Homo sapiens: one gene and its partner. The protein of the gene in region 1 purifies or fractionates together with the protein of each later gene. This does not show direct contact. Each region holds a gene or a part of one and is shown on either strand. Other genes may lie near its edges.

What was found.
Region 2: the proteins of SLC25A19 (region 1) and SEPTIN8 purify together in Homo sapiens (affinity purification with mass spectrometry; one large-scale study listed by BioGRID and IntAct). This does not show direct contact.

Annotation. Positions count from the first base shown.
Region 1 is NC_000017.11:75,275,743-75,279,523, forward strand, and holds part of SLC25A19 (mitochondrial thiamine pyrophosphate carrier), read right to left. Parts: intron 2,594-3,781; coding exon 2,410-2,593; intron 1,742-2,409; coding exon 1,611-1,741; intron 1-1,610. UniProt on the Homo sapiens protein: Mitochondrial transporter mediating uptake of thiamine diphosphate into mitochondria. It is not clear if the antiporter activity is affected by the membrane potential or by the proton electrochemical gradient.
Region 2 is NC_000005.10:132,763,636-132,767,445, forward strand, and holds part of SEPTIN8 (septin-8), read right to left. Parts: intron 1,895-3,810; coding exon 1,774-1,894; intron 785-1,773; coding exon 589-784; intron 258-588; coding exon 71-257; intron 1-70. UniProt on the Homo sapiens protein: Filament-forming cytoskeletal GTPase. May play a role in platelet secretion. Seems to participate in the process of SNARE complex formation in synaptic vesicles.

The DNA of each region.
Region 1 (3,781 bases):
TCAGGAGTTCAAGACCACCTTGGCCAATGTGGTGAAACCCTGTCTCATATGGTGAAACCCCGTCTCTTCTAAAAATACAAAAATTAGGACATGGTGGCGGGCGCCTGTAATCCCAGCTGCTTGGAGGCCAAGGCAGGAGAATCGCTTGAACCAGGGAGGCGCAGGCTGCAGTGAGCCAAGATCACGCCACTGCACTCCAGCCTGGGCAAAAGAGCGAGACTCCGTCTCAAAAAATATATATATATATATGGCTGGGCACAGTGGCTCATGCCTGTAATCCCAGCACTTTGGGAGGCCGAGGCAGGTGGATCACCTGAGGTCAGGAGTTCGAGACCAGCCTGGCCAACATGGTGAAACCCCGTCTCTACTAAAAATACAAAAAATTAGCTGGGCGTGGTGGCACGCGCTTGTAATCCCAGCTACTTGGGAGGCTGAGGCAGGAGAATTGCTTGAACCCGGGAGGCAGAGGTTGCAGTGAGCCGAGATCGTGCCATTGCACTCCAGGCTGGGCAACAAGAGCAAAACTCCGTTTCAAAACAAAAACAAAAACAAAAAAATACATATATATATAACCTAGTTGCTCAAATTCACCCAATTCCAGAACAGCTACAGCAAAACCCCTTTTCTGTGTGCTTTAATATTTGGGGACCTTCCTTGCTCTGTTGCCCAGGCTGCAATGCAGTGGTGCAATCGTGGCTCCCTGTAACATCCACCTCTCACGTTCAAGCGATTCTCCTGTTTCAGCCTCCCGAGTAGCTGGGACTACAGGCGCCCACCACCATACCCAGCTAATTTTTATATTTTTAGTAGAAACGGGGTTTCACCATGTTGATCAGGCTGGTCTAGAACTCCTGACCTCAGGTGATCCACTCGTCTCGGCCTCCCAAAATGTTGGGATTACAGGAGTGAGCCACCACGTCCACGCCCAGCCTCTGGACATATTTTTTTTTGAGATGGAGTCTTGCTCTGTTGCCCAGGCTGGAGTGCAGTGGCGCAATCTCAGCTCACTGCAAACTCCACCTCCCGGGTTCACACCATTCTCCTGCCTCAGCCTCCCGAGTAGCTGGGACTACACGTGCCCACCACCACGCCCGGCTAATTTTTTTGTTTTTTTTTTTTTTTAGTAGAGATGGGCTTTCACCGTGTTATCCAGGATGGTCTCGATCTCCTGACCTCGTGATCCACCCACCTTGGCCTCCCAAAGTGCTGGGATTACAGGTGTGAGCCACCACGCCCGGCCAGGATATGTTTTAAGAGCAGAAATTGTGCTAGGTGCAGTGGCTCACACCTGTAATCCCAGCACTTTGGGAGGTGGAGTCAGGAGGGTTCAAGACCAGCCTGGGAAACAGAGTGAGACCCTGCCTCTATTTTAAAGAAAAAAAAAAAGAGCAGACACTGTATGTCCTTGGCCCAGATCCTTCCACAGTGCTCAGGACCCAGGGCTTGCATGCAGCTTTCCCACATGCTTAGGGATCTCAAGGAATGGACGCAGGTGAAGGGGCCATGGCCAGGGGTGATGTTGCCCAATGGGTAGGAGGTGACTACTGGTTCCCTCATGTGCCCAGTGATGGCAAGGGTCAGAGCTGTCTGCCTGGGAGTGAACGGCTCACCTGGCCAAAGGCAGCTCTGGCATGCTCAAACCCTCCAACCTGTAGCCGCTTCTTGAAGAGGTCCAGCGGATATGTCAGGGTCTTGCTGATGACACCAGCTCCACTGCCACAAAGCAGGTTTTGGAGGTTCTCTGAACCAGAGAAGTGGGATTGGGAGAATGGATGAGAGAAATGCAGTCTATGGGTGACAACTTAAAAGGCGTCAGGGCTAATCCTCCACCACAAACCAAACCCCACAAGCGCACTTCTATCTGACCTCCACTGGTCCTCCCATTCCAAAAAGGAATGTAATCTAGGGGGAGAAGAGCCAGACACGGCCACTTCTGGTGGAGTGATCCGGGCTGGAAGGGTTGGAGGCCGCAGTCCCCCAGCTGGAGGCAACATGGGCCTCAGGCTCTGCAGCATGACTCAGTTCAGGGCTGGAGAGGACCAGGATGCCCCACCCCTCCCCAGCCTCCCCCTGCCCCCATCTCCCACTCCCCCTGCCTGGAAAAAGCAACTGAAGAACCTCAACCAAAAAACAAGCAATTTGCAATTTGGACTTCTGACAAAAATGAAAACCATGACCAATCACTGGAAGTAAATTTCAGTAATGCCAGTGATGGGTGTGGCAGGAGCTGGAAGAAATCAAGTCCTCTCCAAGCAGCTGCAGTTGTTTTGTTTGCCACATTACAGAGCCAGGTACAGAGACCCGCGGTCTTTGATTCGGACAGGAGAACTTTAGCTCCTTTGTGATTTGGAAGGGGGTGTTCTGGTGGCTGGGGTGGGAGGGCTCCCTCTCGTGTGAGGGCTGCCTCACCATTTTTCTTTCCTTCGGCTGGTATGGCCCACTTGTACAGGTGCTTCAAGGAGCTGTAGCAAGAGAACTGCAGCCCGGCGTAGGGGAAGATGGCGATCAAGGTGGGAGCCAAGCCTTTGTAGAAAACCTGGGGGCCTTCGCTCCTATACATGGTCCCCACGGCGTGGCGCAGCGTATTATAGACCTGGACACACACACGCACTTTGAATGAGCTCAGTGAAGTGGTTTTAGCCCTGGAACAGCCCATCATAGCTCTGTCCCCTCGCCTAAAATACCAGCTACCAGGAGCGAAACTCCTCCTGCCAGGAAGACAGTCAAGGGAAACGCTGGACAGAGATTCGAAGGATGGCATTTTCCAGAAACTCCCCCTTCTACACATGTATACCACTGTTATATCCACAGGTGTGCACAAAAGTATGTGTCCAGGAGTCACTGCAGCGTCCTGGGGAAGAGCTAAAGACGCGATGTCCATCTGTGGGTGCTGGTTACGTGAATTATGGGACACCAGCTCACGAGAGAATAGTGCAGCTGTTAAAACAGGAAGGTGAGGCCAGGCGCGGTGGCTCACGCCTGTAATCCCAGCACTTTGGGGAGGCTGAGGCAGGCAGATCACTTGAGGCCAGGAGTTTGAGACCAGCCTGGCCAACATGGCGAAAGCCCATCTCTACTAAAAATACAAAAATTAGCTGGGGGTGGTGGCTCATGCCTGTAATCCCAGCTTCTTGGGAGGCTGAGGCACAAGAATTGCTTGAACCTGGGAGGCGGAGGTTGCAGTGAGCTGAGATTGTACCACGGCACTCCAACCTGGGTGACAGGCGGAGACTCTGTCTCAAAAACATAAATAAATAAATAAATAAATAAATAAATAAATAAATAATAAAAATAAAGTAGAGAGGAGGTCTTGCTATGTTGCCCAAACTGGTCTCGAACTCCTGACCTCAAGTGATCCTTCCTCCTTGGCCTCCCAAAGTGCTGGGATTACAGGCATGAGCCACTGCACCCGGCCAAGCATGTTACTTAGAATTATGGAAGGAAATAATCAAAGAAACAACTATAAGTAGTAAAAGTAGTCGCCTCTGGGGATCGGAATCAGGGAGCGGCTGGGTATTTTTTAAAATTATAATTCATGAAGAACTGTCTTTGTAACCTTGATACATCTTATATGTTGTAAAATTTTTTATCGTTCAAGATCATGTTTATAATATGGTTGTGACTAGTCTTAAGGCAGGTGGAGAGTCTTGTAGGTTTTAACCACATCTCTTCCCCTCACTTTCATGACCAGATATTCTCTGATCATTCTAGAATCTAAAATCCAACATGTCAATAGTTGAAGCTAGAGGTAATATGCTATTATCTTTTTTTTTTTTTTTTT
Region 2 (3,810 bases), on another chromosome or scaffold:
GAGGCAGCCACCACATCGCATCGCAGCAGAAGACTATGGAGCCTGTGACAGCAGGTGGGGACAGGGATACCTTGCTGTCTAGTTTCTTCATGGTCACTAGATCTAGAGACTTCAGGGAGTGCCCTGTGGGCGTGATGAAGTAGAGGCAAACGTGGATCCTTGTGTCATGGTAGTCGAAGAGCGAGCGGCGGATCTTCAGCTCCTCCTGCAGATAATTTTCAAACTGCGCATCGATGTAGTCAACTATGGGCCTGTAACTACAGACAGCTCCATCACCCAGGAGGCTGCCAGCTGAGATCAGGGGCTTGGGGCTTGGGGGGCTCAGGGCTCGGGGCCAAGCCAGGCTGCCCCCTGGCCTTTTCTTTCTGGGAACAGCTTCTGCCTGAGATCCCTGACTGGATACAGGCAGCTGACCCCTTCTCCAGACACCTAAAGGAGTAACTGGTCTGTTGGTGACCACAGAGCCTCAGATATTCCCCAAGAGGCCCTCCCTGGCCCCCTGCAGTGTGAGGGCTGGGCTACTGTTATAGGGGCCAATGTAGGTGGGGTGGGAGGAGGCTGGGTGGGGCCGCCCTTCCCGCCTCTTGCCTCTCATCCTTATTGATCTGATCCCCAAAGCCCACGGCATCCACAATGGTCAGCTTGAGCTGCACGTTGCTCTCCTGGAGGTCATAGGTCTGGGGCCGCAGGCGCACGCATGCCTCATGGTGACTGGCTTCCTCAGTCTCGAAGGTCGTGTTGAAGAGTGTGTTCATCAGTGTGGATTTGCCAATGCCGGTCTCCCCTGGGCAGTGAGGACAGGAGGGGAAGAAGTGGGTGTCATAGGCTGGAAATGGGCTGTCCTTGACTGGTGGCTAGGCCAGGCAGGGCTCAGGCATCCATGGCCCCTGGATAAGAGAAAGGGGCAGGCCGCCCACCCCATCCCTCATCACCCCCATTCCCCAGGAACTATCTTTTCCTGTGGCCTCAGAAATAACCTGTGGAAGGAAGAGCCAAAAGGTGAACTTGGACAGAAGACATAGCTGTGTGTGATATGTGATGTATTTCCTCAGGGAGCAGGGAAGAGACAGAGCCAGGCAGCTGTGTAGACACCACTGCAGACCCAATCACCTCACACATAACCTGCTCTACACAACACCCCTCCTGGGACCAGGGTGGTCATGGGACCAAGAGGGCCAGGGTCTAAAGCCACCAGTGGCTCAACCCATGCGCCCCGGACAGCCCTAGCTCCACATGGCTTTAGCTGGGGGAACTCAGGATGGGCTGCTTCCCGAAGGACACCTGCAGAGGGACCAGAAGAGCACTTTGTGTCCTTCTGGGAGTCCCAGGGAACCTCCGAGAGCCTCTCTGCTTGGGGCTGTTATTTGTTCACATGCGTGCTGGAGCACTTACCATAGGATATGGTGATGAGGGGCAGAGCTGTTTACCATAACGTCCTTGACACAGGGTGGGAAGCAGTAAATGAGTACATGTTTTTTAAATGAACAAACAAATGAATAAATGAACCTAAATCTCTGTGATAAACACCCACAGTTTACAAAGCACTTTCATGTGCCCGATCCAGTTTACTCTTCATGACAATGCTGTGTCAGGCCCTGGCTCTAACTCTATCCTTGACTCTGGCAGAGACACCAACCAAATCCTCGTCCTGACACCCCCAAAGTTTCACTCTGCCTGGGAAGCCCCCTTGCAGCTCAACAGGGGGCCAGAAGCACCCCCTCTCCCAGGAGGTTCTCACCCACCCTCTGTCTGAGGCCAGGCCCTGACACTCACCCACACAGAGGATGTTGAAGCTGAAGCCCTGAGTGACCGACTTGCTGACCAGCTGGTCGGGGAGGCTGTCGAAACCCACATGGCCGCCCAGGGAGAGGCTCCGGGGCTCTGGCTCTGCATTCTGCCAAGAGAGAAATAAAGCAAGACATGAGCCCACTGGGGAAGAAAGGTCAAGCTGCGGGGTGGGCGCTAAATCTGAGTTAAAACAGTGAAGCAGCCCCACCCGATGTCTGAATTCTCAACAAATCTCAGACACACCCTGAGTACACCCGAGCACCAACTCCAGGCCAAGTTTCCCCAGAGGGAGCCCGATGCCCCCAGGGGGAAAGGCCCTTCCACTCTGTAGCTTTGCTCCACCTGGGATGGCCAGGGATGCCTGGGCTGAGGGCTCCATGTCTCCTGGCATAGGTGGCCCCAGGGGCTGTGGTTGCTACCCATAAGGGCCCACCTGTTTTCCTACTCAGGAGGAGGCCCCAGATGGTCCCAGAGGACCAGATTGGAAAGTGTGTCTGTTCCTGCAGCCAGCTCTAGGAGACGGGGGATGCTGCCCCTGCCTAGTCCTCCCAGGCCCTCCCACTGATGCAGGACTCAAGTAGGGCCACGTCTGGTCCAAACCCCTCACAAGCATGCTCCCTCAGAGGAGCCTTCTCTATCAGCTGGGCTCGTAGCCCTCCATGTTCACCCCTGCTCCTCACACACCCACGTGTGGGACTCATGCATGGACCCTGCTAAAGGAGCCGGCCCTCACTCACACAACCCCCCCGTGGGGCTCAGGGGTGGGTTTCAAAGGGACTGAGACTCTGAGGCCTCCTCCCTTCTGCCTCAGTGGTATTCTCTAGAGACCCCCAGCTCCTGGCTCCTGACTCCTGCCACCCTTCCACCCCCATCTCAGCCCTGGTTGTCTAGACAGAAGGTTCCGGGTAAGAATGTGGAGGCCTGGCCTTAGCAGAGGGCTGAGCGGCAGGCCCCGAGTGAGCTGGGGCCACTGGAGGTGGCCCACCGCTCTATAAAAAGAAACCACGAGGACCCAAAGCAGAGGGTCATGGTCACACTCCAACTTGTGTGGCTGGTTTCTCTGACTCCCTGGAATGGGGTAAAATGCTGCCCGAGGGAAGGTTCCCAGGTTCAGCCCCTCTGGAGGGCAGACCTTAGGCAGCTCCATGTTGTGCAGAGTCATGCCTCCTCCATTCCTGAGCCCCACTGCCCTGAGACAGCTAGAAAGAGGAAGGAGAGGAAGGGGCAGCGGATTCAGAGTCTCTCCTGCCCATAGCCGCAGGGTGGTGAAGCAGGTCCAGCTAAGGACAGCCCAGGAGATAGGGCCAGTGGCAGCCCTTGTGCAGATGTGGATACAGGCTCGGGGTCAGGAACCGACAGGGGGCCCTGACTCCTGCCCCACAGAAGCATCTCCTCAGCACCTGAGCAGCTGACCTGTGCCACAGCCCACTGCCTTGGCCTGAACCCCTCTGGCCATCCTTCCCTCCCAACCAGAGAACCTTGGCACTCAAACCCAACCTTCTGCACAACTGATGTCTACCTCCCCACAGCAGCCTTGCATCAACGACTCCCAAGTGTGGGTGCTGGCAACCTAGACCCCACATGGCCCCTCTGGGCAGTTGTACCATCCCCTCAAACAAGTCAGGGCTACCCCTAAACCTGCTTTCTCCCATGACTCTCTCTCAACGGAGCCTCTTTTCTTATAGCTGACCCTTTCTCCCCATCACCTAGCCCCAAAGCATCATGTCCCAATCTCCCCACTCAAGCCCAGATCTCCTTAGGGCTGCAAACATAATTGGACAAGGAGGTCCCAAAGGCAGTTTCCTCTCATTGGTGCCCACATAAAAGTAGTTAATGAAGCCTAGGAGGTGCTGGGTCAGGTCCAAAGCCCTTAGCATGGTGTTCCAGGCCTTCCTCACTGGCCTGGTTCCAGCCCAGCTGGTAACTCTGAGCTCTCTTTTCAAACTCTGCCCCTCCCCTCGGCTCTACAGCTACTCTACTTTTCCCTTGGCACCCACTCTCACCTGGCCCCCAAGCACTTAC